Linked DNA regions of Homo sapiens. The protein of the gene in region 1 purifies or fractionates together with the protein of each later gene. This does not show direct contact. Each region holds a gene or a part of one and is shown on either strand. Other genes may lie near its edges.

Region 1 (6,354 bases):
CCACCAGTGAATATCTTTATGTCAGGTTCTGGGGATCAGGAACATCCTTGTTGATGAGACTTTTGGATGGGGAGTTTGGGGGGCTAGATGAGAGTAACCATTTTGTGTGGCTTCCAAGGAAGGGACACCCTGGCCTTCTGGGAGCTGGAAAGAGCTTTCTCTAGCTTATTTACTTTAACTGCAAGTCAGGGGCACGACGGAGCTGGTGAAGTACTATGAGCCACTGTTCCCAGAGCAGAGGGGTGGAGAAATGCAGCAGGAAATGGAAACATTTAGGCCAAAAACATTTCAAGTATTTCAGCATCTAAGGATCAAAGTGGCCTCACTGACCTTTGGCTACTTGGAACTTTCACACCAGATCAGCCATCAGCAAAGTGAAAACTTGGTTTCTCTGCAGACGACACTGTTTATTCCCAAGGCGAGAAGAAAACTTCCAACGCAAAACACACAGAAAGGAGTGATGGACCCAAATGATTAACTGGGCAGGCAAGTCTGGGTTTTGTCAGCTGCTGTCTGGCCATTGAGTTTTTCTCTTCCATCCCTTTTCTTGCCACAGCAGACTTTTCTAGATGCCTCCATTTTTCACTTGGAAAATGAGAGCTCTTAAGCTCTTTCCTTCTTTTCTCTTACACATCATGATTCCAGGAAAGAATCTTTAACTTTCACTGAAGCATCAATGACTTAAGAAGCGAATTCCAAGAGGAGAAATAGATATTTTTGCAGGAAATAAAGCCTTAAGCTTCTTCAGAAAAGGAAGTGAAAAGAGGAGTTATGCCCTGGAGAAGGCACTGGTCAGAGTGGTGAGACCCTGGCTCCTATTCTGGCTGGGTAACCCCAGGCAGGGCACTTATTATGTTGGGGGTTTCCTTATTTCTCAGGATGAAGGCTTAGAACCAGATGTTCTCTTGGCTCCTTCTCTGATCTCATTTTCTATGACGCCAGAAATTCTTAGATCTGCCCCAAATTAATATATATCTCTAATCCTAATTGAATAACATCCCAGGGTGCTGAGACAGTGTGCAATTGAGGTAATTAGACCATGCTCCTTAATTTGTTCAGAATCATAGAGTTAAGGAAGCCACTACTATCTCCATCATCACCCTGCCCCCAACCACCATTATCATTATCACCACCATCACCCCCACAACTATCACCACCACCATCAATACCACCACCAACACCACTATCGTCAACTCCCCACACAACTACCATCACCGCTACCACCAACACCAACACCACTACCACCAGCACGATCATCATCACCACCATTATTGTCACCCCCCACCACCACTACCATCACCACTATCACCACCACCAACAACACTACTCCTACCACCATGATCATCACCACCACCACCACTACCATCACCACTATCACCACCACCACCACCACCATGAACACTACTCCCACCACTATGATCATCACCACCATTATCATAACCCCCACAACCACTACCATCACCACTATCACCACCACCACCATCACCTCCACTGCCACTACCACCATCACCACTATCACCACCACCACCACCTTACCACCATTACCCCCACCACCATCACCCCACCACTACCACCACCACAATAATCACCCCTACTACTGCCACCACTATCACCAGCACCACCACCAGCATCACTGTCCTACCACTACCATCATTACCCCATTATCACCATCACCAGCACCAGCACCAGCACCAGCATCACTGTCCTACCACCAGCATCACCACCACCATTACCACCATCATCACCACCACTACCATCACCTTCATGAGAAATAAAGTTCTACTTTTTAAAATGGGAAAATTTATAAAAATGTCTTAATTTGAGGGACTGATGTTAATTCCAGGGAACATTCTGGAATGGGATGTGGAATGAGCTTTTAGGATTGAAGCTGTGATTTCAAGGAACCAGCATGGAATCACTGAAATTAGTTTATGTCAGACCAACAAAATTGCTTCTTTGACAAGATTATTGGACGGAAGATCAAGGAAATACCAGTGATGAAGAATATTTGGAGTTTATCAGAGACCTTTGATAAGATTCTTCTAATAATGTTGAAAAAGATGAAGAAATATGGGCTCAGTTATAGTACAGAAAGCTGAATAAATTTTCTAAGTAAGTGCTGTTTAATTATTGAATTAATATCTATGTTTAGGGAACATACAGTGGAATGCCTCAGAATCCCATAGTGTTCATTATTTTTATTGATGACTTAGATGAAGAGGTCGTGCTCATCAGATTCAGAGATGGCAGGAAGCTGGCTGAGAGGGCCGGTAAATACACTGGATGCTAGAATCACAGCCAGAAATATCTGGGCAAGTTGGCGAGGCAGACTGAACTGAACAAGATAAAATGAGAAACAATGCACAGTCTCTAGAGTGGCTGTGAGGGGGTGTGGGCAAGTATCGGGTGAAGGCGAGCAGGTGGGCAATGCAGTTCAAGAGCAAGTTTAAAAGAGAATTGGGTTACTTCAGTTGATATTAAGCTCAACAGGTGTCAATGGTATAGATTCTTAATTAGACCTTAAAGAGTTTTAATAGAAATAGGAAATAGAATGAGGAGGTGGTAATTTCAGTCTTCTCCATGCTGATTAGGACTCCCTTGAAATTTTGCACTTTATTCTTTAAGAATAAAGAAATTAGAGAAAACTAGGACAAGAGTGATGATAATAATAGTGAGGGCACTGGAGCAAATGGCCCATGAGGTAGGGTGGAGCAGTGAAAAGGGCGTTGGCCAGGGATTTGAGAGCCAAGTTACCCCATTAATAGGTTGCGAGATCTTAAGAGCTGGTTCAGGACTCCCTGAGGAGAAGCACAGACTATGGTGGTTGACTGGTCTGCTCTTGTAGGTTTTTGGTTCCCCGCCCTTTTCCCCCTTCTCTTCCAGGGGAGGAGATGGGGCCAGCATCCACCAACTCCCATCAGTAGGAGAGGGGAGAGTTGCTGGCTTCTGGGTTCTTTCCTCGCAGAGGCTCATGCATGCACAGCCTGGGCCTCTGGGAGTGTCCAGGTTGGAGGGATCCTCGCCATCTGTTGATGGTGTTGTGTGGGGAGTTGGAGCAGTTGGGGGAGCTGGAACAGATGATCTTAGTAGTTACTCCCATCTCTGAGAGTCTAGATTTCAAGACACGCTGAAATCAGGTCAGGCCACACTATGGATGGGTTCCTTTCTCCCTCCTTCACCCATCCAGGGACAGGTTCTCTTAAGACCCTGAGCAAAATTTTGCACTCTTGATATGTGATTCAGAGTCATAAATTATACCCATTGTTTCTCTTGGAAAGCTTTCAAAAGTCCCCTTTCTGTGATTTCCCAGGAAGCCAAGATGGTGGCAATCCTAATCCACATCACAACACACAGCAGTTATTGAGGCAGTAAAGCAAAAGGTCCAAGAAAAAAAGAGAAGATAAATAAAGAGAAAAGGCTTTGAAATCATATAGACCTGAGTTTCAATCTCAGTCTCTCCTATCAGCTTTGTGACCATAGGCAAATTACTGAAACTTTCTGAGACTCAGTTTCCTTATCTGTGAGATGGGGTTAATACCAGGAGTGTAGTGATGTGAATATCAGGTGAAGCTATGCGTGCACAGAACATAGCCCAATGTGGGACTCAGAGTCGGTGCCCAGTAAGTGCTATTGCTAATATTACCACAACATTTACTACCACCATCCCTCCTTTATCTTTCTCTCCCTCATCTCTTCGGGGCTAGGCACTGTGCTAGTGCAGAGGATACAGTGGAAAACGAGACAGACATAGACACACACTTTGCTTGCACCAAGCTTACACTGTAGCACAGTCCAGTTAAACTTTTTGCAATGATGGAAATCTTTTAAATGTGCATTCTCCAATATGATAGCCAGAAATCACATGCTGCATGTAAGCACTAGCAATGTGACTGGTGTGACCGAGGAACTGAATTTTAAATTTCATTTAATTTTAATGAACTAAAGTTAAACAGGAAATAGTCACATGTGAAAACAGACAGCACAGCTCTAGACACCTTTCAGGTATATTTCTGGGACTGACTAGCCTGAGCAGAATAAAGGTATGCTGAAAGAGAAATGCACGTAAAGCATCCAGTACAGGACCTGGAAAATTCTCTTATTCGTTCATTCGTCACATTTAATTGTTGACTATGGATTGGCACTATCTCAGGTGCTGGGGATACAGAAAAGGATTAGACATGGTCTCTGCCTTCAGGGGGCTCATAGTTCAGTGGGAGATATGCAAATAGTGACTTCGCCATAGCGAGGTAAGCTTACGCACAGGTGCTGTGGATTCAGGACATCTCTAGGGTGGGCTTCCCTGAAGGATGTTTCCGGACCTGAGCTGAATCTTGCATAAATTGATCTCAGAGTGGGAGCAACAACAGATTATATTCCAGGGCTACTAAACCCACTGCTGGTGGCAGAGGTGGCTTGGAGATCAACGAGGCTCTAGGAACAACTCATAGCTAGGGCCAGTTTGTTTTCTTCTAACCCTTTGTGTGTGTGTGTGTGTGTTTTGTATTGCCTAATTCAATCTCTCTTCTGCCAGCCACATTTTGTTTCCACCTGAGGACATTTTTTTTAAATGATGGGTATAACTTTATTTTTAAATTGTTTTATTACTATTAATAGTTACTAGCCTTGATTTCTTTTTTTTTTTTAGTCAGACAAACTCTGTTACTTATAAAGTGACATCAGCTCTCACTATGGTTGGGTGTGGAATTCTGATACTTGGTACAAATAAACAACTCTTTGAATATGGCCAGTATGTGAGGAAGCTGTTGCTGATGGGTTAAGCTTGCTGAACCTGGCTGTGATCATGATGCACGTTCACAAGAGTGAATGTTGTTATAATGACTTGTATGGAGAAGTGGGACATTATACACATTTGTATATTTTACATGATGGTTTGATTTGTTCAAAGTTAGTATGTGACATTTAGCTAGAGAATTCTGCAGCTGATACTTGCTCACATAAAAATAGGTATAGCTTTATGTTGTATGGTTTCCATAATCCCTCCCGAGTGTATAAAGCAAGGTGATATGTGTGATTCCTTCTTCCATGAGACTGAAGAATGCTCGTGTGATGTGGCTTGGTCGTGTGAGGCCTTGGCCTATTTGGATTCCTAAAGGTCATCTGCTTGAACTATGGCCGAGTTGTTTCTGGTGAATGGAATCCTAAATTAGTGTACCCTTTTTGAAAAGTGGCTTCTCATATATACTGTGAGCCTTAAAACATTCATGCCCTTTGGCCTGGTGATCTATTTCTAGGCATCTATCCAAAGGAAGTAATGGGAAGTGTGTGCAGTAAAGACTTTGCCCAGAGTTATTTGTAGTTGCTAAAGACAGGAAGCAACTTAAATAACTAACAGTGTAATAATATGCAGCCAGGAAAACAATGTTCATGAAGGTCTTTTGCTACAACACTAATTCAGAAAAAAGCAGAGAACCAATAGCTACAGGGGCTCAGCAACCATACTTTTGAGTCAGACAGCCTGGGTTTGAATCTTGATTCTGCCACATACTAGCTATGTAACTTGGGCAAGTCACCTGAAGTCTTAGAACCCTAGAAAAATGCAACCCTAGAAAAATGGGATTGATAGTAATAACACCTCAGAGGGACTCCTGAGGATTAAAGGATATAATGAATATAAAATTTAACACCATGCAAAGTATACTTATTAGGCACCCAATAAATGCTGGCTCTCTATGGATTGTATAATTTCGAGGCATAAAAACAGATGGAAAGGAAATATGCCAGTATATTAACAGTGTGGGATGGGAGTGGTAGGATCATGGGTGATTGATTTGTTCTTTGCATACTTTTCAACTTCCCAATTTTTAGGCAATGAACATGAATTACTTTTATACTAAAAGAGTACATTATAATGATGTAATACAATAAGATATACATTTTAAAAGTTTTAAAGTTTTACCACAAAGAAAAGGTACTTCCCCGCCCTTTTCCCCCTTCTCTTCCAGGGGAGGAGATGGGGCCAGCATCCACCAACTCCCATCAGTAGGAGAGGGGAGAGTTGCTGGCTTCTGGGTTCTTTCCTCGCAGAGGCTCACACATGCACAGCCTGGGCCTCTGGGAGTGTCCGGGTTGGAGGGATCCTCACCATCTGTTGATGGTGTTGTGTGGGGAGTTGGAGCAGTTGGGGGAGCTGGAACAGATGATCTTAGTAGTTACTCCCATCTCTGAGAGTCTAGATTTCAAGACACGCTGATGTTTGTCGTTTTCTCCCCATGTCTCGGTTGATCTGAACCAACCACTCCATAAAATTCTAAGGTAGGAAAGACTCATCTACTAGCTTCCCACCCTAAAGCCCCTCCCAGAAAAATACCTGTAGTAATGCCTATAGTGCTGGGT
Region 2 (6,354 bases), on another chromosome or scaffold:
AACCTGCTCTGAGGTGGGGAGATTCCAAAGGCTCAAACTGCCAGGGGGGGTGGGAAGATGATTCTGCTGCTACAGGAATGGTCAAGAGCAATCAGTGGGGGAATTGCAAAGAGGAGAAGGCTGCATGGAATGACTCGCAAAAGAATAAACAGGGATGGGGTGATGGACAAAAATCAAGCCAAGGGTGGTCTGTTTCTGCCAGTGATAACTGGGGAGAAACTTCAAGGAATAACCATTGGGGTGAGGCCAATAAGAAATCCAGCTCAGGAGGTAGTGACAGTGACAGGTCCGTTTCCGGTTGGAACGAACTTGGTAAAACTAGTTCTTTCACTTGGGGAAACAACATAAATCCAAATAATTCATCAGGATGGGATGAATCTTCTAAACCTACTCCTTCCCAGGGATGGGGAGACCCTCCAAAGTCTAATCAGTCTCTAGGTTGGGGAGATTCGTCAAAGCCAGTCAGCTCTCCAGACTGGAACAAGCAACAAGACATTGTTGGATCTTGGGGAATCCCACCAGCTACAGGCAAACCTCCTGGTACAGGCTGGCTGGGGGGACCTATACCAGCCCCAGCAAAAGAAGAAGAACCCACAGGCTGGGAGGAACCATCCCCAGAATCTATACGTCGCAAAATGGAGATTGATGATGGAACTTCAGCTTGGGGAGATCCAAGCAAATACAACTACAAAAATGTGAACATGTGGAACAAAAACGTCCCAAATGGCAACAGCCGTTCAGACCAGCAAGCACAGGTACATCAGCTGCTAACGCCTGCAAGTGCCATCTCAAACAAAGAGGCAAGCAGTGGCTCTGGTAAGTTTCTATTTTATGAAATCAAGCCTTGTTTTAACTTACTGTTATTATAAGATTTGTATAACAAAGTACTTGGATATGCACACAAAGGCTGTTCTTACTGTAATCCAGAAGCAGCTTGAAAAAAATTATAGGGGTGATGTTTACCACCAGAGAACAGAACTCCACTTTTGGCAGTGTTGTTTGAGTCCTGCACACTTCATTCTCTATTAGAAATGCAAGAGAAGGCGAATTGGACAAAGGCGGTCAAGTGGGAATGCTGTACACTTCTCCAAGTTGTTTTTGAGTTAGGCCTTAACTTGTGGTTTTATTATTTGACTAAAATATCTCCAGAAATAAAACAAGTATCTCATAAATACAGTACTCTCTAAACATTAGGTTGTATATTTGGCTTTAGAAGGGATTTTTTTTTTTAAGTAGGTGAGAAATCCAACTCTACTTAGATACAGTATATATGTTTGTGTATTTAAAACATTTGACAATACCTTTCTAGTATATCCTTACTTTCCTCTCTAATAATGAACTAATTCCTATCTCTGCAAATTTTCCCAACAACATTTTTGTTAAGTGTGATTGGCTACATTGTCTTTGTTAATAAAAGTTTTATTGACTTAATAGTCTCATTGGAAGTGGATATGGGAGTGCTTTCATGAGCTAACTTTTTGGCACTGAATTTTTTTTTTTTAGTCTAAGTATAGTTTGTTGTATTAATTTAGGTTTGATTCTTAAAAGGAAGAAGTATGTATCTAAGATGAAGCCTGTTGGCTTTGATTTTTTTTAATGAAACATTTATGGCTTTTTTTTTTTTTTTTTTTTTTTTTGCTTTGGACAACCTCAGCCTAATACTTCAGATTTTAAAATAAGCATTGTTCAGCATATGTAAAAAGTAGGTGACCCATTATTGTTAGCTGGGTAGTAAATTGTTTTTCCAGTGTAGGTGGTGTGGAAGGGGTACACTTGTGGCACAATTTTTTTTTTTTTTTTTTTTGGAGATGGAGGCTTTCTCCGTCACCCAGGCTGAAGTGCAGTGGCATGATCTCGGTTCACTGCAGCCTCCACCTCCCAGGTTCAAGCAATTCTCCTGTCTCAGCCTCCTGAGTAGCTGGGACTACAGGTGTGTGCCACCACGCCCAGCTAATCTTTGTATTTTTAGTAGAGACCAGGTTTTGCCATGTTGCCCAGGCTGGTCTCAAAATCCTGACCTCAGGTGATCCACCTGCCTCAGCCTCCCAAAGTGCTGGGATTACAGGCATCAGCCACTGTACCCAGCTGGTACAGATGTTATACATACACTGTCACCCAGCTTATCACCTGCTCCAATTTACAAGGTTTGGTTTAGAATGACTTGACTTTTTCAGGAATTAAACTGATGCTCAAAGGAGAGTGGTTTTCCATAACTATGCAAAAATCAGCTCTAGGTCTAGAGGGTAATTATGAAAAAAGTTAAAAAAATTCTCACCTTATATTAATGGGAAATAGTTTGTCTTTTTTTAACATAAAACAGATGCCATCTTTTTGCCTATCACAGTATCATTATTCAGTACATAAACATGAAGTTCTTCATCCTTGGTCCCTAAGTTTTCTTTATTGTCCCTTATTCCACTGCACCTCCTTACCTTCTATGCTGATGACTTCTTTTCCCACACTTTCTAAAGGCTGGGGTGAGCCCTGGGGGGAGCCTTCTACTCCAGCCACAACTGTGGATAATGGTACTTCAGCATGGGGTAAGCCCATAGACAGTGGTCCCAGCTGGGGGGAACCCATTGCTGCGGCATCCAGCACATCCACGTGGGGCTCCAGCTCTGTTGGTCCACAAGCATTAAGCAAATCTGGTAAGTTATTGACAATGCCTGGTAGCTGTTATGTAGCAGTGGCGAACACTCACTGACTATAATTAAATAATTAGATAAGGTTTCTATGTTATTTATAATATATTCATATAATGTAACATGATAGATGATGTTCAGTATTTTGCTCTTTGATTTTGTAACGTGGTTTATTCTCTTTCTGAATTTTCCTCTTTTCTCATATTTCTTAGAACTGTAACTATTCATTTGCATATACTTCATCAAATCTAAATTATATTTTACCAAATTAGGTTATCTAGGAAGAGTCTACTAGCAACTTTCATGCCATCCAGCCTGAGAGGCCAACTAGTGTAGCCATGAGGACACATATTCAGACTGTCAGATGATTCCCTGAAAGTTACAATTAGCATAGTTCAGAAAAGACCCAAGATTGAAATTAACATTGTCATTATCCCATAGGCTGTGTACAAGATGCCCGGTAGGAATCCCAAGGGCCATGTGTGAAGATAAGATGCTTTCTGCTTAAGGCTTTGAATACTCTCTGGCCATTCTCCCTAAAAATATATATAAAAATTAATTCTTTCAAATTTCATTCATCTTCTTTGTCCTGTGCATCACTATGCAGATTATTAAGTGGGTACAAACAAGAGTGCTACCATTGTCCATGTTCAAGAACTATGATTTGTTAAAGGCATGGAGGAGTTTTATTAAATTTTTAAATAAGAATATATTATTTTTCATGGAAGGTTTAGCTCAGTATAAAACATACTTTCCTTCTGTGCAGATGCAGGAAGGGAAATAAGTGTGCACGTGTGTGTTTTCTTAGGTTCTCTACCCAATTTTTAATATATACTTATTCTCCAGAAGGAATTCTTTTATTAAAGTATGTTTCTCTTTATATCACAAATCCACAATCAGGGCCAAAATCTATGCAAGATGGCTGGTGTGGTGATGATATGCCATTGCCTGGAAATCGCCCCACTGGCTGGGAAGAGGAAGAGGATGTGGAGATTGGAATGTGGAATAGTAATTCATCTCAAGAGCTTAACTCATCTTTAAATTGGCCACCATATACAAAGAAAATGTCATCGAAGGTAAACATTTCAAGGGCAAAGCCCTTGAAACTTTAAATTCCAAAGGTAGTTTACCCACAGAAAATTAACTTTTCGCCTGCCCATTTCTGGCGGTCAGTACAGTCCAGGCAGCCCCCACCTTAGGTATAGCCACTTGTATGGGCAGCCACCTAGAGAAACATAAGAAAGACCACAGGAACTTCCTTTCTCCCCACTGCTACAGCTTGGGATTTCTCTCTTCCTCCCCCTCCACCAGTGCTGCCTGGGACAACCCCTCATCCTAGGGTGGTGCCTGCAGTGGTGAGGATGAAGAGGAGGGCAAATCTCCATGTTGACTCTTTCCATCCCACTGCCAGTTCATCTCCCATTTCATTTCCTCACCTGGAGTCCCCCGCCACCCGCTTACCCAGAGTCACCATCCTCCTTATTCACCTGTCATGTTTGTCCCTATCCCATCCCAAAAGGTCCTGTGACAAAAATCCCTAGGAATGATCTGAGCTTGGTTTTGCTTTTATGTGTGGACAAATCATATTCCTAAAGCTGGCTGTACATCGAAATCCCATGGCATTTGTTAAAAATGCAGCTTCCTGTACCTCAGGTCTACTGAAGTTTTGGAAATTGGACCAAGTTTCTTATCCTAAAGAAACTCCTCAAATGTCTCTGATGCAGAGCCAGGTTTGGGAAGCACTGATTTAGAGCACTGGTTCTTAAGAGGTGGCACTGGGGGCTGCTGTCAGATCCTCCTGGGGACCATTTTCAAAATATGTGCCCAGTCCCCCAGGTGGTTCTAACATAACATCCTAACCCACCCTACTTGAGAATGATTACCTTTTGAGGGACCTTAGAAGTCAGATACCAGTGGATAGCTGGACTAGGTAACTGCCAAGGTTCCTCACTTTTAATCCTGGGATTCTAAGTCTAGGACCTGCCATTTTCATTTTTAAAATTTTTCATTTGGCTGAATTTGCCTATTGCCTTGCCATATAGCTTATGAAGTGCTTTTACATGTTTTACATAAGTCATTTGATCCTCACAACCATCTAAGATAGGACACTGATGAATTTGAGACTGGAAAAGGTGGTGACTTGCCCAAAGTTGCGATAACTAGTAAGCGACAGAGTAAGGACTTAAGTTTAGGTCTTCCAGTTCCAAACCCCATGTTCTTCCCACTGGACCATGCTGTTTTGTGACTTTGTCTTTCCTTACAGGGTCTGAGTGGCAAAAAAAGGAGAAGGGAAAGGGTGTGTAGCCTTTTTACTCTTTCTCCTTTGTTTCTACTAGTAAAAATCTTTAGAAAGCAACTGCAAACATTTATTTAGCCTCTGCTGTGTGCCAGGTACTGTGCTTGGTGCTGGGGATTCAAATACACTAAGATATGAGTTTCACCTTTCGGGAGCTCACAGTCTAGTATGGGGCATTAGGAGAGCTTCATAGAAGTGTCAGCTTGAATTTGGAAGATGCTTGGGATGGGATGTGTTAAGGAAGATAGTAGCCCAACATAACCAAAATGTAGAATTTTTAGGAAGAAGTGACAAGAGATCTGGCTCTGTAGTTGAGGCAGATTGTAGTGTCTTCAGTAGCATGCCAAGGAATTTGAACTTTATTTTGTGTAAAATATGGAACCAACGAAATTGAGTAGAAAACAACATCAGTGGGGTTTTTAAATTACTAATTTTAAAAGAAAGCTAATCAGTGATAGTATGAAATATAAATTGGTGCAGAGGGGAGACCACAGTTAGGGATCTCAGGGAGCATCTGCGTTAATTCAAGCTAGAAAGGACAGCTTGAGTTGGGAAATAAGAATGGATATATAGTGGAAGGGACTAATTTGAGAGGCATTTCAGTCAGAATAGAAAGGACAGAAGAACTTGGCAACTAGTTAGGTATGGGGATGGATGGGGTGAAAGGAAAAGGGATCAAAGCCAACTTCAGAATCTGCGGAGAGAGTTAGATGCTTGCTTCAGAGACCTGCATTTGGGGGGAAGTTGTGAAGCTGTGTTCTGTTCCACAGTCAGAAGGAATGGACAGTAGCAATGGGAAGGGGTAATGAAGTAATGAAGGCAACAGACTGAGAATGGTCCAGTGAGACCATAATGAGAGACATAGATCTCTATGGCTTCCAGCCTCCTTGTCTACCAGACTGCTGATCACAGACCCTCCATCCTCTTAACTCATGTCTCAATGGAGTTTGCGTACCACCCATACCCCAACCAGCCGCAGAGAGCCAGCCCTAAGCAGGAGGAATCCCAGGTTCAACTTCTGCTAGAGATGTTGTGTTCTTGGCAACACAAATTGAAATTTTAAAATACTTTTTCATGTGGAAAACACATGGTGTTTTTTCAGTAGGATGCATATAGCATAATTAAATTAGGGGTTAAGTTGGCTTCTTTGGACTAACCTTAGAACCTAGTCACTATTTTTTTACTTTGGTTTGGAGTGAGAATTCCAGAAATCTAAATTATAACTAATCTTACAGTTCTCCGTTACTCAGAGGCCCTGTTTTCATATTTGTGGGTCATCGAGGCCTTTTGCTTCCGTCTTTTCCTTCTGACTGCTTGCCTTTAGAGATTTCTCTGTACATTACAGCTATACCAGAGGACTGGAGCAAAGGAAGTTGAAAATCAAATAAGTTGATTTTTAATTATTAACAACTCTGA
Region 3 (6,354 bases), on another chromosome or scaffold:
TGCCCTATAGTAGGTGTATTATTGACTAAATGAAGGACGTTTTCTACAAATCTTTAAAGATAAAGAGAATCATAAGTATGATAAAGGGCCTTAATTTAAAGGAAATAGCCAAATAAATTGAAATGAATTTGTAGTGGGGGACAGTGGTGGTTATATTTAGGACTTCAAGAAAGCGAAACTTCACAAATTTGTGTCAAATCTCTTTCTCACATATTTATCTCATATTATTCAAATATCAAACAATTTTAAGTTCAGAATATCTTAACAGTTTATAGAGTAAATTTCATTTTTGAAATGTGAATCGAGGGTAAGTTTTGAGATTAACTGAAGAAAGTCATTTTTGACCTTATATATTCCTTGTCTATTATTTGTTTTAATAGAACCTGTGTGCAGACACATTAGAAAAGGATTGGAACAAGGTAATTTGAAAAAGGCTTTAGTGAATGTGGAATGGAATATCTGCCAAGACTGTAAGACTGACAATAAAGTGAAAGATAAAGCTGAAGAAGAAACAGAAGAAAAGCCTTCAGTTTGGCTGTGTCTTAAATGTGGCCATCAGGTATGCTTACGTTTTAAGATCAATATGGGATTTTAGAAAACTCTTTGAACTTACTTTAGAAGGTATTACCTGAAAGTACAGTATGGATAAAAGGATACTAGTAACATAGATCATGTTCTCTGGAGAACCAGTTCTGAGATGTGTGTATAGGTGGTGGAGTGTTCTCTGGTACCACACCAGTAAAAGTAAGGGAAGCAAGATTAAGCATAGGGAGAAGTTGAATGAAGAGGCAGTGGCAACAGGGTCTCAGCCAATCCCACAGTGATCTCTTGCCTGAATTGAGGCAAGGAGCTAGACCTTTCTACCTGTGCATAGACCAGTCATTGGATGTGGCCTGCCCCTAGAGCAGGAAGTAACCTTGGGCAAGGCAGCTCCCTTTTGTTGAGACTGATTCCTGGGGATGGATGGACTAGACTGTGAGCTCTCAGCCGGCCACATTCTCAGCACCTGGGGGAATGAGTAGTACCTTGATCTTTGGCAGTGAGGGCATGTCTGGCTGGCACATCACAGTATCTACTCTACCAGCTCACAGTTATTACCGTGGTACTAAAGTCAGGGTCTCTCAGTTACCCTTAGTGGTGGCAAGTTAAGCTTATATGTTAGGAAATTGGGCTACTAGGCAGTAGTCATGAAGTCATGAGGCTTCAAGATCAGGCAGATAGCCAGTTTTTTGTTGTTTTTTTGAGATGGGGTCTCACTCTGTCACCCAGGCTGGAGTGCAGTGGCACAATCTTGGCTCATGGCAGCCTCCACCTCCCAGGTTCAAGCAGTTTTCCTGCCTCAGTCTCCAAGTAGCTGGAATTACAGGTGTGTGCCACCACGCCTGGCTGAGTTTTGTATTTTTAGTAGAGACAGGGTTTTGCCATGTTGGCCAGGCTGGTCTCAAACTCCTGATTTCAAGTGATCCACTCACCTTGGCTCCCTCAAAGTGCTAGGAATACAGGCGTGAGCCACTGCGCCCAGCCAGGATTTTTTGTTTTTTCACGTTTTCAAATTGAAAATCTTATTGAGGTTATTATAGATCATGTGCAGATCTAACAGATAATACAGAGAAATCCCTATGCATTTTTCTCAGAGTCCCCCAGTGGTAACATTTTACAAAATGAGTATAATATCACAACCAGGATATTGAGATTGAAACAACACACCAATCGCAATCAGATCTCCTGAGTTTGACTTCTTTTTTTGTGCATGTGTGTATGTGTACATGTGTATTACATTCTGTACACTTTTGTCACCTGTGTAGATTATTCACCACCACAGTCACGATACTAAATAGTTGAACATCACAGGGATCTCTTGTGTTGCCCTTGTATAATCATACCCACCTCCCTACTGCCACCACTCTCTGCAGCCCCTGGCAACTACCATTCTATTCTGTATTTCTAAATTTAGTCATTTCATCAAAAATGTTATGTAAATGGAGTCATACAGTGTGCAACATTTGGGGATTGGCTTTTGCTTTTTTCTTTTTTTGAGGCAGGGTCTCACTCTCTCACCCAGGCTGGAGTTCAGCGGTATAATCACGGCTCACGGCAGCCTTCACCTCCCAGGCTCAAGTGATCCTCCCACCTCAGCCTCCTGAGTAGCTGGGACTACACCTGCATGCCACCACTCCTGGCTAATTTTTGTATTTTTTCTAAAGATGCGGTTTTGGTATACTGCCCAGGCTGGTCTTGAACTCCTGGGCTCAAGTGATCTACCCCCCTGGGCCTCCCAAAGTGCTAAGATGATAGGTGTGAGCCACCGTGCCCAGCCAGGATTGGCTTTTTCACTCAGCATAATCACCCAAAGATTTATCAAAGCTGTGTGTATCAAGTTTGCTCTTTTTTTATTACTGAGCGTATTTTATGGCATATAGTACAACAGCTTGTTTTTACTGTTTACCTGTCGAATGACAACATCTGGGCTGATCCCATTTTTTGGTGATTACAAATAAAGCTGCTGTTAACATTTGTGTACAGGTTTTTGTGTGAACTTAGATTTCATTTCTCTAGGATAAATGCCCAAGAGTGCAATTGCTGGGTCCTATGGCAATTTAATGTTTAGTTTTTTAAGAAACTGCCAAACTGCCAAACTGTTTTTTCACAGTGACTCTACCTTTTATATTCTTACTAGCAGTGTATGAATGATTCACTTTCACTTTTTCTTCATTTTTGCCAGCATTTACAATTGTCACAGTTTTTTATTTTAGCCATCATGATAGTTATATACTGATATCTCATTGTGGTCAGTTAAAAAAATCTGTATGTTAGAAAAGATACTGTTTACTTGTATTTGAAAGGTTTAATTGTAACCTTTTAAATACATATGGTGAGTATGAATATGCTTTGCTATTTCAGTTTTTCAGAATATATTTTGTGTTACAAATTTTTGTGCTACCTTTTTAATTTGTAAGAATAAGACATGTCAGTATTAACTGCTAACTTTTTTCCCACTAGATACCTTTGGCACTGTTAGCTAATGATTCTTAACTGTTGTCTCAAGACAACTATGTTTCAAATGATCTCAAATGATGTTGTAATTTTCAAAAATAGTATCAAATGTTAATTCATTTATTTTGTAATTAAATGTTCAGTGGGATAAATTAAGCGAATAGTGTTTGGGATCATAGTTAAGGAATTAGAAATTACCAATGTATATTTCTTCTCCAAAGTATATATTTAGCGGCAATGGAAACACGACCGGTTGTTGTACTGTGATCCAAAAGTTGATAGACTGGTTCCAGTAGATACACAGTGAAGATATGTTTCTCAGCAGTGATCTGACTAGCTGAAAGCAGAAGTTTAGGTCATGTTCTTTTATGAATAAGCCTATACATCTTTTAGGTAAAAGTCTCCCATTTACTTGTTTAAATAGTGTTTTTTGACCACCTCCTGTGTTCTAGAATATTTGGTAATAGATTAAGTCTACTGCCTTGAGCCTTTGGGATTTATAGACCAGGTGAGAAAGGATATAAATATCAATAACGTTAGTACAAGGTAAAAAATAAGGAATGCCACTAGGAATTCATGCCATGTTTTATAGAATTTGTTTAAAGGAAGGAGACAGTATTTTCTCATCTGGGAGATAAGTATAGGCTTCTGGGAGGAGGTGGCTTTTGAGCAAGATCTTGAAGAGTGGGTGGGATTTGGTTAGGTAGCAGTGTTCATAAAGGATTCTGGATAAATAGAATAATGTGAACAAAATTGCATAGTTGTGAAAAGCGCTCAGTGTGTTTTTAGCTGGTCGTTGGTATGTGAATAAGAGAATGTGGGAGTTAACACTGGAGAGATATGTCGGGGTCAGAGGATGTCAGGTTTGTTTATTAGGAGTTTAAGAGTGCAATTCATAATTTTTGAATGGTGTATGAACAGAGCTTTGTTTTAGGAACACTAAACTGAAAGAATATGCATGTGAAGAAGGAGGCTGAAGTTAGGGGAATGTTTAGGAGACTGTTAAGGAATCCAAACCAGACTTGACTGCATTAGTGTGGTTTAATCTGGGCTGGAAAGTTGGACAAGAAGAGTACTTTGAGTGCATGGTTTTCTTTTTTTTTTTTTTTTTATTTTGAGATGGAGTTTTTGCTCTTGTTGCCCAGGCTAGAGTGCAGGCCCAGACGTGATCTTGGCTCACTGCAACCTCCGCCTCCTGAGTTCAAGCAGTTCTCCTGCCTCAGCCTCCTAATTAGCTGGGATTACAGATGTGCGCCACCACACCCGGCTAATTTTTGTATTTTTAGTAGAGATGGGGTTTCACCATGTTGGTCAGGCTGGTCTCGAACTCCTGACCTCAGGTGATCCCACCCCTGGCCTCAGCCTCCCAAAGTGCTGGGATTACAGGTGTGAGCCACCGCGCCTAGCGAGTGCATGGTTTTCTAAATACTTGTTGACTTAAATGTTCTCAGTTGCCTGTGCATATGTAAGTTTTAACAAAATATTGATTCTAGAGTCTAACATTTTCTTTTCAAGATTGTAAGAATGGCAGAATTTCATGAGCCACTTCCTTGTTTATGATAGATTATGCATTCTCCCCTCTTGCTGAGTTTTTATGGCTTTGAGGTTTATGATTATGATTTTTTTAGGGCTGTGGCAGAAATTCTCAGGAGCAGCATGCCTTGAAGCACTATCTGACGCCAAGATCTGAACCTCACTGTCTGGTTCTTAGTTTGGACAACTGGAGTGTATGGTGAGTTTCAGTTCCTCTGCCTCTTGGGTGGAAATTATTTGAAATATTAGAGAATGGAAATGTTTAAATATGTTTAAGAAGAAAGCAATTTAAAATTTTTGTAGTATGTTTTAAAATACCATCACTTTCACAAAGCTAAAGAATGCAGTATTATGAGAAGCTTTTACTTGGACGTTTGCACAAGCACAAACATTGTAACATAGAAGACTTAAGAATCTTTACCCCTTTGTTTTTCTTGCTTGTGATATTATAAGGCATATAGTGGAGATAGGGACGCTAAGAACAAATTTCAGATAAAATTGTAATAAAATTTTGGCTATGAATTTGCATGAAAATAAATGTCAGTCTGGTATGTTATAGATGCTGCATTGTAACATCATTAAAACAGATTTTTACGTCTTAAAAATCATTTTCACAGTAGTCTTCACTGAATGACATCTTTTTTTTTTTTTTGAGACGGAATCTTTCTGTCGCCCAGGCTGGAGTGCAGTGGTGTGATCTCGGCTCACCACAACCTCCGCCTCCCAGGTTCAAGCAATTCTCCTGCCTCAGCCTCCCGAGTAGCTGAGATTACAGGGATGCACCACCACGCCCGGCTAATTTTTGTATTTTTAGTAGAGACGGGGTTTCACCATGTTGGTCAGGCTGGTCTCAAACTCCTGACCTCGTGATCCCCTTGTGATCCGCATGCCTCAGCCTCCCAAAGTGCTGGGATTACAGGCATGAGCCACCGTGCCTGGCTTGAATGGCATCTTTCAATTGTAAAAGTTGTTACTTTTGTCTGGCTAACACGTTGAAACCCCATCTCTACTAAAAATACAAAAAAAAAGTAGCTGGGCATGGTGGTGGGTGCCTGTAGTCCCAGCTACTCGGGAGGCTGAGGTAGGAGAATGGCATGAACCAGGGAGCTGGAGGTTGCAGTGAGCCGAGATCCTGCCACTGCACGCAGCCTGGGCAACAGAGCGAGACTCCGTCTCAAAAAAAACCAAAAAACAAAACAAACAAAAAAAAGTTGTTATTTTTGTTAGTGTTATTCTGTATTTTAAAATATATGTAAACAATCTTTTGACTTCAATGTTATAACCAGTAAAGTAAAACGTTTGGAGTATTTCATCATACTACTTATATGCAGCCATAATTCTGGCTAATTTTATTAATAATAAACCAGAGTTAATATGCATAGTCTTCTTCAGGAAAACAGAATTTTTACGTTCGGTTTCTTTAATAGAATAAGTTGGCAGTTACACACTTTGATTCCAGGAATTATTATTTGTCTCCCCCTTTTTAGTTGTCATTTTGTCATTTTTCATCTCTGATTTTTGGGTCACAGGTGTTACGTATGTGATAATGAGGTCCAGTATTGTAGTTCAAACCAGTTGGGTCAAGTGGTTGATTATGTCAGAAAACAAGCCAGCATTACAACTCCAAAGCCAGGTAAAATAATTTGTTTCTTTAATATACACCAAATGTCGATTTGTGTATCTGCTGATACTTAGATTTGTTATACTACCTAGCATTACATACAGCTGAGTAACATTAGTTATGGTTGATTGCAAACTATGAAACTATTTTTGGTTTAACTATAAGGTATTAGAAGGGATATGAGAAATGATCTAGTCAGATGTGAT
Region 4 (6,354 bases), on another chromosome or scaffold:
ATCTATAGAGACACGAAGGATATTCATGGTGGCCCGTGGCTGGAGGTGGGAGCAGAAATGGGTGAGAACCGAGTAGGAGCGATCTTATTGGGAATTGAAAATGTTCTAAAACTGCATCATGGTGATCTCTACACAACCCAGTAAATTTACCAAAAATCCCTGAATGGTACACCTCAAAGAGGTGACTTTTGTGGCATGTCATTTATACCTCAATAACAATGTTTAAGAAAACTGACTTAATTTTAAGTCAGACTCAAGAGTTCTAAGTTAAATGACATATCTCTTAAAGCTGACGTCTTGGCAAGCCAAGGGCAAACATTTATGGCAAAGCCAAATGGAACAAAGTAATAGAGCTTGCAAAGGGGATGAGTGCCCAACCTGAATACACAATGTATCTAAGTCAACTCCAAGAGATAGAGAAAGCCAAACACCAGTAACTGCCCAACTCAGTGGTGTGGACAGAAAGAATTTCCACTCCAATGAACATCTGGGCCACCAGAAACCCATACAGAAAAATATATTTGTTGTCCAAATATAGAACACTGAATGGAAAAGCAAACAAAACAGGAAATTAGAGAAGGTTGAACATTTACTCTTAGATAGCAAACTACGAATCCAGCCCAAACTTCTCTCACAGCAAACGCCATGCAGAAAAATGGGATTAATGATCCCTGGGCTTGGTCCTCTGTTGTGCCAGACACATATTAGAAAGGAAAGAAAATTCAAAAAGGACAACTTACTCTGTGTTTTTATTATGCTTAAAGATGAACTGGGAAATAATGAAAGCATACAATATCTTGTTTCAACTAACTTTTCTAAAACCATGTCCAGGATATTCAAAAAATTACAAAACGTAACTAGAAACTAACTACTGGGTGGATATGAGCAGTACTGACTGAGATAAAAATGCAATGTTTCCATGAGCTAATCTTATTCTATATTTAGTTTGAGTACACTAATATAATTAACTAAGGTTATATAATTTTGCTAACTTCAAATTTTCACTTATAAAGCTTCACATACAATTATCTGAACTAAAATTGATTTGATTTTTATTTTTGTAGAAAGATGAAAATGGTTAATTTTAATAATCCTGTCTTCCTAATAAGTTACTGTCTTCATTGATATAAATTATGTAGATGGTGCTTCAACAATGCTCTAAAGTTTGTTTTCATAATCTCTTTCAAGGTTAGTGTACTCACAGATTCCACGTCCCAGGGGCTTTTACCATTTGGCCTTCCCATTCCCCTACATACCTCTGTGCCTCAAACTCCCAGAAACTAAACCTAGACAGCTGCCCCTTGAAAGCACAGGAAGTGTGCGCTTAAGAAATAAAGTCAATTCTGGTACAGGCTTCAGAGGTCAGCCGACTTAGGGTCATTCTCTGAGATACACTTCTGAAAGATTATATAGGGTGATTTGGATGGCAAATAAGCAAATGATTAATTAAGAGTGTCATCACTCAACAACAAAGACAGGAGAGGATTCCAGTTCACAGCTGAAGCAATTCAGTGGTTCCAATATGAAGTCAAGACCAGTCTAAGGCTTAAAGCAAAATATATTGTGCCATCTCTTTCCTCTTAAAGGGGTTGGGCTGTGGAGTCAGATAAGGTATATTCCCAAATATACTCTGCATCTGCTTTATGGTTCATTACAACTAAATTTCTTACTGGGGCCTAAATGCATTGGTCTCTGGAGAGGGGAGATAGGTGCATCAATCTAGATAGTAAAAAATTCTACTTCCTGTTTCTCCTCTCTTCACAGTGAGTGCCTTCTGAGTATTACCATAAAGAGAAGCAACAGGTTTTTTAAAAAGTAGACACAAATATTTCAGCTTATCAAAGGACAAATGGAGGTCTACATAGATTCTGATGAGCATTAATCATGGTCGGCATTAGGCATCCTGCTGGTACACGGAAATCTACAAGTACTGCTCCTGGCAGGCTTTCTAATGCACTGCGCAAGTGTATGAGCATCATTTCATATAACAAAGTTATGTTGCGAATTCAATATTCACAAAGAAGAAAACAGATGCAAACACCAAAAATTACACACAAAAACTAAAGCTGACATATCAATTCTCTCAAGTTAAACAAACTAAAAACTGGTCTGGAAACCCAGAACCACTTGAGGTTGGCATTTCATCTCATGAAAACCAAACCTTCAGCCATTCTAAGCAAATGAGCTCAGCCAGAAGACCTTAAATTTAGAGATGATTCCTATTTCTCACCTCCACAGCCCACAATGTGGTCTGAGTTGTGAATATAATTTTTATGTTTATTCACTCTGTAACACCAGTAGTGTAGCAGCAACTCAGAAAAAAAAAAAAAACCTAATGAGGCCAGGCGTGGTGGTTCACGCCTGTAATTCCAGCACTTTGGGAGGCCGAGGCAGGCAGATCACTTGAGGTCAGGAGTTCGAAACCAGCCTGGCCAACATGGTGAAACCACATCTCTACTAAAAATAAAACAATTAGCCAGGCGTGGTGGTGGTGGGCACCTGTAATCCCAGCTACTCGGGATGCTGAGGCAGGAGAATTGCTTAAACTTGGGAGGCAGACGTTGCAGTGAGCTGAGCACTCCAGCCTGGGCGACAGAGCCAGACTCCATCTCAAAAAAACAAACAAACAAACAAAAAACACCAATGAGAAATGCAAAAAAACAAAACACTTAATAACCATGATAGATGAAATATGTCTCAAAAACAAAAACAGCAGGTCACAGTGGCTCACGCCGGTAATCCCACCACTTTGGGAGACCAAGGTGGGCGGATCACCTGAGGTCAGGAGTTCGAGACCAGCCTGGCCAACATGGCAAAACCCCGTCTCTACTAAAAATACAAAAATTAGCCGGGTGCAGTGGCAGGCGCCTGTAATCCCAGCAACTCGGGAGGCTGAGGCAGGAGAATTGCTTGAACCCAGGAGGCGGAGGTTGCAGTGAGCTGAGATCACGCCACTACACTCTAGCCTAGGCGACAGAGTGAGACTCTGCCTCAAAAAACAAACAAACAAATAACCAGATTTAAAGATTTAAAGCACCCTAGGACTTTTATCACAACTCAATTCCAGTACAATCTCACGTTGATGTCTTTGAAATTCTGAACCATTTCTGCAGCAAAACGCCTAATTCTCCAGAGCCCTGAGGGCATCCGTCAATGAAATCAGCTGATTTATAAACAGAATTCAGTGATTATGAAAACAATGCAGTCATAAAACGCTTAAAAAGCATAGCATTGTTCCAAGGTTTCCTTGTGGACCTGCAAACAGGTACTGTCATCTAGTTCCGAAACAAGCGCATTTTTTCAGCTTTAAAAACAACACGCAAAATACAATAGATCCAGTATGTGCATGGTTCCCTGTTATTGCATATTCTTTCTTCCCTAAGTCAAATCACTAATACCTGTACCTCTGGAACGATGTCCAGTCCTTAAGCTGGTGGATCTCAAAGTTACTTAACGCACATACATGTGCGTGCAAACGCACACATACCTTAGTAGCTGAAGTCAGAGGAAAGGGGAGTACAACTGTGTCCTACCTGCAGGCAGGGACGTTGGTATCACCCCCTCTTCCAGCCTTTGGGGACCTACATCATAAATGTTTCTTTCATCATATATCCTTTTCAGCAAAAAAGTTTTCAGAAGGTGCTCCTAACTCATGTAATTTATTAAATATATAAAATACTCAAGTAACATGCATTTCATGGACAAGAAATATATTTTTTACAAGTATTAGAGATTTTCTTAATGGACATTTTCATAATTTCTTCCTGCATCCCAATAAATCTTGCTGTGCACCTGCCAGAGGGCATGAAACTCACTAAGACCCTTTTGGGAATTAAAATCTGAAACAAGTCATTTCTGTCCCCTGTCCTTCCCCCAAATTTAGAGACTACTGGCTTAAAGGAATTACACTCAGAGTCCCATAAAATTTAACAGAGCATCCCGTGACATGTAATATCAACAAGTATCTCTCCTTGCTCTCATCTGGTCTACAATAATTTCTGTCATGTACTGGACAGGGAAGATTATTCATTCTTATTTTCACGAACTTATGAGCTGAGTGCATCTCAAAGGTTAGGCTTTTTGAAGTATCCTAAGACAGATCCCTGGAAATGGCTGAAGTTGACATAGAACCACTGTGTCTTGAAAATGCAAGCTGAATCTGGTATTTTCTTCATAATCAAATTGGGAATTAAACCAAACCCCCTTCAAAGGTGGGGGACAGAACTGTCCCAAATGAGAACCATTAGTTGGCTGCAACATTCCAGAGCTCAACGTTGAAAACACTGTTCCAATAAGAAAGCATCTTTTCTACCTTCATTTCTAAAGCTTCCCTTTCTCCTGAACCCACCGCCTATCATGCCCCATCTCAATCTCTCTGATCCCATCGGACAAGAACAAACCTAGACAAGAAAAGGAAACAGTACCCGACTTCCTCTGAACAGGTCCTCCAGACTCTCCTGCTACTGTCAGAAGTTGGCAATTGCTGTTTTCAAGTTTATAATTTTGAATTCTTGAGTTTTTATCAACATGGAGCTGGCATTACAGTTGTGTACGATTCAAATGCTTGATAAGATTCTGTTGAAAAAAGAACTGAAGGCAAGGACACAAGTTTATTCTGTTCCCCAAATGAACCAAATGGCAGGGACGTCAATTTCCTATTCAGGGATATCAATTCTCTACGCTTTCGGGAAATACAATCTGAAACTGTGAAGCCACCTGGACTTTTATAGCACCTGGGAATTACCTTTGCACATTGGCACTACCGATTTTTACATGGCAGACTTTGGCGACAGTTCTCCACTCAACTTCATTTCTCATCTTCACATAGATGACAAGGTAACAGTGACAACTAAAGGAGCACAAGCATCCAGGCTGACAATTACCCAATTACCCACAGTGCACCAGAAACTGAAATCACGACTCAGTCCTGCTGAATTTTCCTCCAGTTCTTAAAATTATTGTTTTTTTTTTTGAGACGGAGTCTTGCTCTGTCACCCAGGCTGGAGTGCAGTGGCGCAATCTTGGCTCACTGCAAGCTCCACCTCCATGGTTCACGCCATTCTCCTGTCTCAGCCTCCCAAGGAGCTGGGACTATAGGCGCCCACCACCATGCCTGGCTAATTTTTTGTATTTTTAGTAGAGACGGGGTTTCACCGTGTTAGCTAGAATGGTCTCGATCTCCTGACCTCGTGATCTGCCCCCCTCAGCCTCCCAAAGTGCTGGGGGGCATGAGCCACCACACCTGGCCTCTTAAAATTATTTTATATGGTCTTGCCATATTAAAGTATATGTTGGCCAGGAACAGTAGCTCACAACTGTAATCGCAGCACTTTGGGAGGCCGATGCAGGAAGATTGCTTGAGTCCAGGTGCTCAAGACCAGCCTAGGCAACACAGCAAGACCCAATCTCTAGAAAAAAATTGAAAATTAAAAAAAAAAAAAAAAAGAAAGAAAAAAAAAAAGCTGGACATGCTGACTTGTGCCTGTCGGCCCAGCTACTTGGGAGGCTGAGGCAGAAGGATCACTTGAGCCCAGAAAGCCAAGGCTGCAGTGAGCTATGATCAGGGCAACAGAGCAAGACCCCATCTCTAAAAATACATAAATAAAGTATTTGTTATTATTGATTTAAGGAATAAAATGGCACCATGTACAATAAGCTTCTTTTTGTCCAAATTCCCTTCTATCAGGAAATTCAGACAAGCAAAAATGCTCGCAGCACTGAACAATACTGCACATTCACATGGACTCTAAATCCTAACAACAGGCAGGTCCCTAATTGGAAAGAGTCAAGCCTAAAGGGGACACATGCCCTTCTCTTCTTGCTCCGACATGATGGTGCTGGGGATGCAGTTTCAACAGACCCGAAGGAAGGTTTCAGCGTCTTGGAGAGCTGGCCGGGAAGGTTACCGGGCAGGAGAGAGCCTCACCTCCTCCCTACTCCCATATTCTAGCCTGGGCAGGTGTTCCAGAAAGGAAAGAGCCCTGTGCAGGCTATCTGGGGTCATAATCGGTTCCAGGCTCAAGGGAAACAGGCAGAAAAAACTCTCATGTTTTCTTTAAAGCATTCCGGCTACATCCACCACGATAGGAAAAATGACAAGAATTCAAGGCAGACACCCAGGTCAAGAATAAACACTGTGAGTTTTGCCGTGAGCATTGTTTGTGCTTCTTTCACAGGGTCTCCTGGGGCTGGAGAACTGCCGCACTCCCCGGAATCACTCAGAGGCGCCCAGCAGCACAAAGCGCCTTCTGACTCGCTGTGGGTTTCTGAACTAAAATGCGCAACTAACTTATCAATGTTTACCAAAATATCGCTTATTTTAATCATGGGAAAACTGATACTCTAGGCACCGGA
Region 5 (6,354 bases), on another chromosome or scaffold:
TTGCACAACTTCACACAATTCTGGCATTCATATACGGGGCTATGCTGACACTCCCAGCGCTCCACACACACTCAATCCACGTACTTCTAATTTTGCTTTGTTTCCTTCTGCGAGACTCGGGTGGTTGCACTTCTGAATTCTCTCCACCACCAAAAGCTGCTCTTCCATCGATCTTCCTAACAACAGAGATCTCAGTTCCTCATAGGATTCAGGGGCTATCAAAAACACAAAACATACTGCACATTTAACATTTATATATATGTATATATATTTATTTTTGAGATGGAGTCTCGCTCTGTTGCCCAGGCTGGAGTGCAGTGGTGCAATCTCAGCTCACTGAAACTTCCGCCTCCTGGGTTCAAGAGATTCTCCTGCCCCAGCCTGCTGAGTAGCTGGGATTACAGGCACTCGCCACCATGCCCGGCTAATTTTTGTATTTTCAGTAGAGACAGGGCTTCACCGTGTTGGCCAGGCTGGTCTTGAGCTCCTGACCTCAGGTGATCCGCCTGCCTAGGCCTCCCAAAGTGCTGGGATTACAGGCATGAGCCACCGCACCTGGCCCACATTTCACATTTAAAATGAGAATTACTTACATGTCTGCTGACAGAGAGGTAATTTTATATAACTATTCTACTTCACGATCACAACAAACCCACCAGCGTTTGCCCTGGTACACCTGGAGGGGTCTCAGCCATCCTGACCTGGGCTGTCAGGTGCGATCACGCACCTGGGAACAGGCTAATAAGGAAATGCCCTCCCACCTTTCCTTGATTAGGAATTTGCTAAAACACCCACAGTTTCAGAGCATCTTGGTGGCAGGGTGCTGGGTTTAGTGCCCAGACTGCTTCAGAAGGACCTGGAAGGAGCCACTGTGAGCCAAGCAGTGTCAGCTCAGGAGACTCTTGCCACCAGAGGGCACTTCACAGAGGCCAGCTTCACCACTAGCTTCTCCTCTGGAAGCGTCTGGCAGGCACAGAATAATTCGGCATTGCTTACTAGAACCTGACCATTTTTCTTTTCTTTGTTTTGAGACAGGGTCTTGCTCTGTCACCCAGGCTAGAGTGCAGTGGTGTAATCTCGGCTCACTGCAACCTCCGCCTCCCAGGCTCAAGTGATCCTCCCACCTCAGCCTCCTGACCAGCTAGGAACACAGGCACAAGCTATTGCACCAGGCTTATTTTTTATATTTTTGGTAGAGACGAGGTTTCGCAATGTTGCCCAGGCTGGTCTCAAACTCCAAGGCTCAAGTGACCCACCCACCTTGGCCTCCCAAAGTGTTGGGATTATAGGCATCAGCCACGCACCTGGCCTGGACAATTTTTCTCCACATACTAGACAAAACAACACTGTATATTCCATCTAAAATGTTACGTGGCCAAACAGGAGGCCCAGGTGGGAACATGGAAGCCTTCTCGCAGATGCTCACCCACCTCCCCAGCCCTGCCCCTCTGGTCCACCACAAGAGGCTGACCATATACTAAAAGGGAGGTGAAGGTACCACTAGAGAGAGGCGCATCTGGCCCATCGGGGGCCGGCCTACAGAACCACAGTCACAAACTAAGATGACCACTCACTCTAAGACCTGGATCAGCAGACACAGGGGTGTGTCCAGGCACTCCCAAGGGCATCCTTGGTCCCCATTCCACAAATGCAACCCCTGGGAGGGAGACGAACACACACAGCTATGGCCAGGTCATAAAGGTTATCCCAGAACCTGAGGAAACCCGCGCACTTGCCCACCTGCGAACGTGTAGGGCAGCTCGTCTCTGGTAGCTTTTCCAGCTCTTTCCTTGCCGCTTATCAACCCTTTCCCAGGAGTCTGCCTCTGCTCTTTTGCTGGCTTCTCGTTTTCTTCCTCACTCTCCACGTTGGATTCCAGGTCCAAGTGGCTATCTGGGCTGTCGCTCTCCTCTGTGTCCTCCCCGCCTGAACTGTCACCTTCTTCCTCGTTGCTCTCAGGGTCACTGGCTTCCTTGCTTTGCTCTTCCTGGACATCTTCCTCGACATTCATCTTTCCATCCTACCAAGAGCGTGGAAACCACAGGGCATGAGGACAGGCGGAGACAACGCTGGACCATCTCACAGCCACATCAAGAGGCTGCCCACATCAGGGCTTTCTACGTGGTTGCAAGGAACACAAACCTGTGTGCTCCATTTGCCCACTGGCACTAGGCCTCCTGCCCACCACCCGCTTCTAGGCTATTCGAGCCGCAGGAGCTACAGGCTGCTAGAGAACCCTGCGGCAGGATGCTGGGCGCGGTTCAGCTTTTGCCAGGGAGCAGCATGGGACTGGGATTTGGAAGGTGTACAGTGGCTGCGGGCTTTAGCAGGAGGAGTGTCTACAGCACCTTCTGCTCCTCCAGGTAACCTAGTGTTTTTATCAGTATCCATTTTCCTGTGTGGATCTCTTCTGCTTGAAACCTGTCCTGCCTATTTTTCTTCCCTGGACCCTGACTGATACACTCTTAAAACGAGAAAAGGGTACCGATTTATAAAGTTCGTGAATTAAAAACTACACCAGTCATGGAAACTCAATGACATCACTCAAAGAAAATTCACAACTCTAGCCTTGAGTTAGCTCCCTCAATAGTATGATGAGGTCATGCAGATAGAATCATACAGTTATTAACAAAAGTAGTTGATGTTAACCGAGTAATCAGTTTTATCTGTGTTCCTTTGAGACAGAGAGAGAGAGTGAGAAAGAGAGCGTGAGCAAGTGAGTGCACATACTATTGTTAAAGTCTTCTCTCTAAAGTTTTAATATCTGATATACCATAAACACCCAGATAAAGAACTTTAGAGAAACTGGTTAAAAAGATTTAAAATTCCCAACTGTAATAAATCCCTAAAATGAATACCAAAAAAATGTTTTTAAATTAAAAAAAGAGAGAGAAAGAGAAAATGAAGGCAAACATCTTACTTTGTAGGAAAGCAAACGCCTGTCATCTTTATCTAGCACGAAGCCATCATTCAGATCATCTGCTGACATATGTTTTGGTTTCTTAACATTTTCATCCTCATCCTTTCCAAGCATTCTTCGAAGTCTCTCAGCCTGAGCAGGAAGGAATGAGATGTCTTAGAGCACACTCTTCCAACATATGGTGAGGGGGCCGTGCAGTCCTGCCCTGGGCAGCGGGCTGGGCCTACGGTCCTCCCAGCTCTGAGGCTGGTGCATCCAGCCTGCTTTCTGCCTGCAGTTTTCAATCAGGCATGCAAACACTAGCTAAGCAGCACATTCCTCATTTAACAAAATCAACTGTTCAAACTTTGTGGCCAATACTCTCCAGTCACCAGGCAAGCCTATTATTCTGAGGCCTTCACAGCCCAATTCTGCTGGCCAGCCCCGACTGGGACTCATCACCCCCTGCACCGAGAGAATAGGAGCCAGGACGCCAAGAGCAAGCAGCTCCACGGCCTCCACTATTTGACCACACACTGGACACGGGAAGAAGCTAGTGATGTGGTTATGTCAAAACAGCCAGCTGAGCCAGCTGTGATGGCAGCCCACACCTGTAACCCCAGCACTGTGGGAGGCCGTGGTGGGAGGATCAGCTGAGACCAGGAGTTTGAGAACAGCCTAGGCAACATAGGGAGATGCTCATCTATACAAACAATTTTTGAAAATTAGCTGGGGCCAGGCGCGGTGGCTCACACCTGTAATCCCAGCACTTTGGGAGGCCGAGGTGACTGGATCACCTGAGGTCAGGAGTTCAAGACCGCCTGGCCAACATGGCGAAATCCTATCTCTACTAAAAATACAAAAATTAGCCGGGCGTGGTGGCAGGCGCCTGTAATCCTAGCTACTCAGGAGGCTGAGGCAGGAGAATCACTTGAACCCAGGAGGTGGAGTTTGCAGTGAGCCAAGATTGTGCCACTGTACTCTAGCTGGGTGACAGAGCGAAACTCTGTCTCAAAGAAAAAAAAAAAAAAAGGTATTCATGAATAAATATAAACTTTAAATAGACTAAAATATTCCACTGATCAAACAGAGTATTCTCTTCAGCCCATCCTGCAAAATGGAGCAGAAGGGGCTGTGGACGGACAGCAGCACAGCCCTGCTCCTGAGGTGCTGCCACCCTACCTCCAGCTTCCTGAGGTGCTCCTGCTCTTCCTTTGCCAATTCTGCCTCCGTCTTCATCCTGTTAGAGGGCTGCGCCTTCATTTCAAAGCCAAGCTCGCGAACCATCATGTCATATGCATCGGGCTAAGGTAGAAAGAAGAAATTCTTCATTTTAAAAATATATTTATTTCTTATTTTACAAAAAGAAAAGATCTAGCTTCCTGGCACATTCTAGTAATGGCTAGATAATGTTATTGAAGTAGCTAAGCCACATCTACGTCTTTTCTTCTAGAGAGAAAACTGTTCTGATAAGCCCTGAGGATTGCGAAATCAGTGGACATTCGGTCACAAAGAATTTGTTTACCCCTAGAAAAATTCTCAGAATACATCTGCTTTAACGAAAACAGGCCAGGTGCAGTGGCTCACGCCTGTAATCCCAGCACTTTGGGAGGCCAAGGTGGGCAGATCACGTGAGGTCAGGAGTTTGAGATCAGCCTGGCCCAACATGGTGAAACCCTGTCTTTACTAAAAATACAAAAATTAGTCAAGCATGGTGGCACGCGCCTGTAATCCCAGCTACCCGGGAGGCTGAGGCAAGAGAATCACTTGAACCCAGGAGGTGGAGGTTGCAGTGAGGTGGAGGTTGCACTACACTCCAGCCTGGGTGACAGAGCGAGACTCCGTCTCAAACAACAACAAAAACGCTACTTATCCAGGCATTACGCCCTAAACGTGGGAAACTAAGTAAAGTAACGGTAACATCAAGGCTGACTGACAAAGATGCACAGATGACCACATGACACTAATCTGCTGGGATCTAGACTTCTCTGAGAACGCAGTTTCTTAAACAAATGCAGCATTTTCCAATAGTTTCGACTAAAGAGAATGCAGTAGGAAACAACTGTTTACAGAGGCAAAAATAAGTAAATGTATATTAAATGTATGTATTATGTATCAACAGACAAACATGTCACAGGGAAGTTCAGACACCTATTCTAACGTGTCCACCCTGAAGTACTTCTTCCATCCAGAAACACCACTTTTTTCAGTTTAATTCACCTGCAATAGAGACTCAAGTAACTGAATCTACTTCCACCCCAAGATTACACACAGCAGGTAATTCAGTATCAATGTTCAACAGAAACTTGCCCTAAAGGAGACAGGTAGAAGAGCCGTCCAGCCCCAGCCCTTTCTCTGGAGAAAGTCGGTCACCCAAGCTCAGTGAGTGAAGAGTTTGTTTCAGTACTTGGCTCCCACCTTGGGTTTTTCCTTTTTGTCTCTGTTCTCTGACTTGGGAGTTTTGTGGGACAGGAGAGTCTGAATTTCTTTCCAGTCTTGGTCTAGCTTCTCCGTGAGCTCGAGGGCATCTTCTCGTTGAGCTTGTCTCTCCCTCTGGGGAAAAAATAACAGACACACACCACATACCGTTACTACTGGACTTCAACCCAGAGGCCCAATGTCAGTGCCAAGGACACACACAGTGATCACTCAGTTGGCACCAAACGTTTCAACACAGAAAAGAGGCCAGGAGAAATGAGTATTTTAAATGCAAAGCTACCAAATCTCATCAGACGGAAATCTTTTCCTGCCATAAACCATTAATTTAGATGCTCTGAGCAGTTCACTGCAAATGAATAAAAAAGTGATTTTTTGGGCACATGTCAGATACTAAAACCAGCAACAACAAAAAACCCATCCGCGCCAGGTGCAGTGGCCCACCCTGTGCTTTAGAACTAGGCCAAGGTGGGAGAACTGCTTGAGCCTGGTCGACACAGCACGATCCCCATCTCTACAAAAAGTAATTAGCTGAGCATGGTGGCGCCCACTAGCTACTTGGGGAGCTGAGGTGGGAGGATCACTGGATCCTTGAGCCCAGGAGTTTGAGGCCACAGTGAGCTTTGATCGTGCCACTGTACTCCAGCCCGGGAAACAGAGACTACGTCTCAAAATAAAACAAAACATAAACCAAAAAAAGGCAAAAGAACCAAAACCTGTCCGAGGTATATGCTTTATGTGATTTTTAAAATTCCTACTCACAATAAATGCTTTTACTGAACTCATATAAAATATTAAACACAGCCTAAAAAGGTACAGGAAAAAAAAGCTCAAACACATTTTGGTGAGCCTGTCTTACCGTGGAGAAGATGATCAAGAACACTCACTAACCCACCTTCTCTTGTTTTGACTTGGCAATGAGCTCTTCAATCAGCTCTTTCCGGGACTTCGGTTTCTCCCGCTCCTCGCCTTCCTGTTGAGTCTTCTTGTGAAGGAGCCCACCGCCTCCTCCAAAGTGG

The links.
Region 2: the proteins of DGKG (region 1) and TNRC6A purify together in Homo sapiens (affinity purification with mass spectrometry, with the first as the bait; one large-scale study listed by BioGRID). This does not show direct contact.
Region 3: the proteins of DGKG (region 1) and USP16 purify together in Homo sapiens (affinity purification with western blotting; one study listed by BioGRID). This does not show direct contact.
Region 4: the proteins of DGKG (region 1) and TBL1X purify together in Homo sapiens (affinity purification with mass spectrometry; one large-scale study listed by BioGRID and IntAct). This does not show direct contact.
Region 5: the proteins of DGKG (region 1) and NOP14 purify together in Homo sapiens (affinity purification with mass spectrometry; one large-scale study listed by BioGRID and IntAct). This does not show direct contact.

Annotation. Positions count from the first base shown.
Region 1 is NC_000003.12:186,354,029-186,360,382, forward strand, and holds part of DGKG (diacylglycerol kinase gamma), read right to left. Parts: intron 1-6,354. UniProt on the Homo sapiens protein: Diacylglycerol kinase that converts diacylglycerol/DAG into phosphatidic acid/phosphatidate/PA and regulates the respective levels of these two bioactive lipids.
Region 2 is NC_000016.10:24,791,002-24,797,355, forward strand, and holds part of TNRC6A (trinucleotide repeat-containing gene 6A protein), read left to right. Parts: coding exon 1-816; intron 817-2,471; coding exon 2,472-2,648; intron 2,649-3,542; coding exon 3,543-3,718; intron 3,719-4,905; coding exon 4,906-4,938; intron 4,939-6,354.
Region 3 is NC_000021.9:29,030,215-29,036,568, forward strand, and holds part of USP16 (ubiquitin carboxyl-terminal hydrolase 16), read left to right. Parts: intron 1-380; coding exon 381-559; intron 560-4,622; coding exon 4,623-4,726; intron 4,727-6,056; coding exon 6,057-6,160; intron 6,161-6,354. UniProt on the Homo sapiens protein: Specifically deubiquitinates 'Lys-120' of histone H2A (H2AK119Ub), a specific tag for epigenetic transcriptional repression, thereby acting as a coactivator.
Region 4 is NC_000023.11:9,471,531-9,477,884, reverse strand, and holds part of TBL1X (F-box-like/WD repeat-containing protein TBL1X), read right to left. Parts: intron 1-6,354. UniProt on the Homo sapiens protein: F-box-like protein involved in the recruitment of the ubiquitin/19S proteasome complex to nuclear receptor-regulated transcription units. Plays an essential role in transcription activation mediated by nuclear receptors.
Region 5 is NC_000004.12:2,948,194-2,954,547, forward strand, and holds part of NOP14 (nucleolar protein 14), read right to left. Parts: coding exon 6,231-6,354; intron 5,453-6,230; coding exon 5,318-5,452; intron 4,205-5,317; coding exon 4,082-4,204; intron 3,053-4,081; coding exon 2,921-3,052; intron 2,886-2,920; exon of another isoform or gene 2,021-2,885; coding exon 1,741-2,020; intron 216-1,740; coding exon 85-215; intron 1-84. UniProt on the Homo sapiens protein: Involved in nucleolar processing of pre-18S ribosomal RNA. Has a role in the nuclear export of 40S pre-ribosomal subunit to the cytoplasm.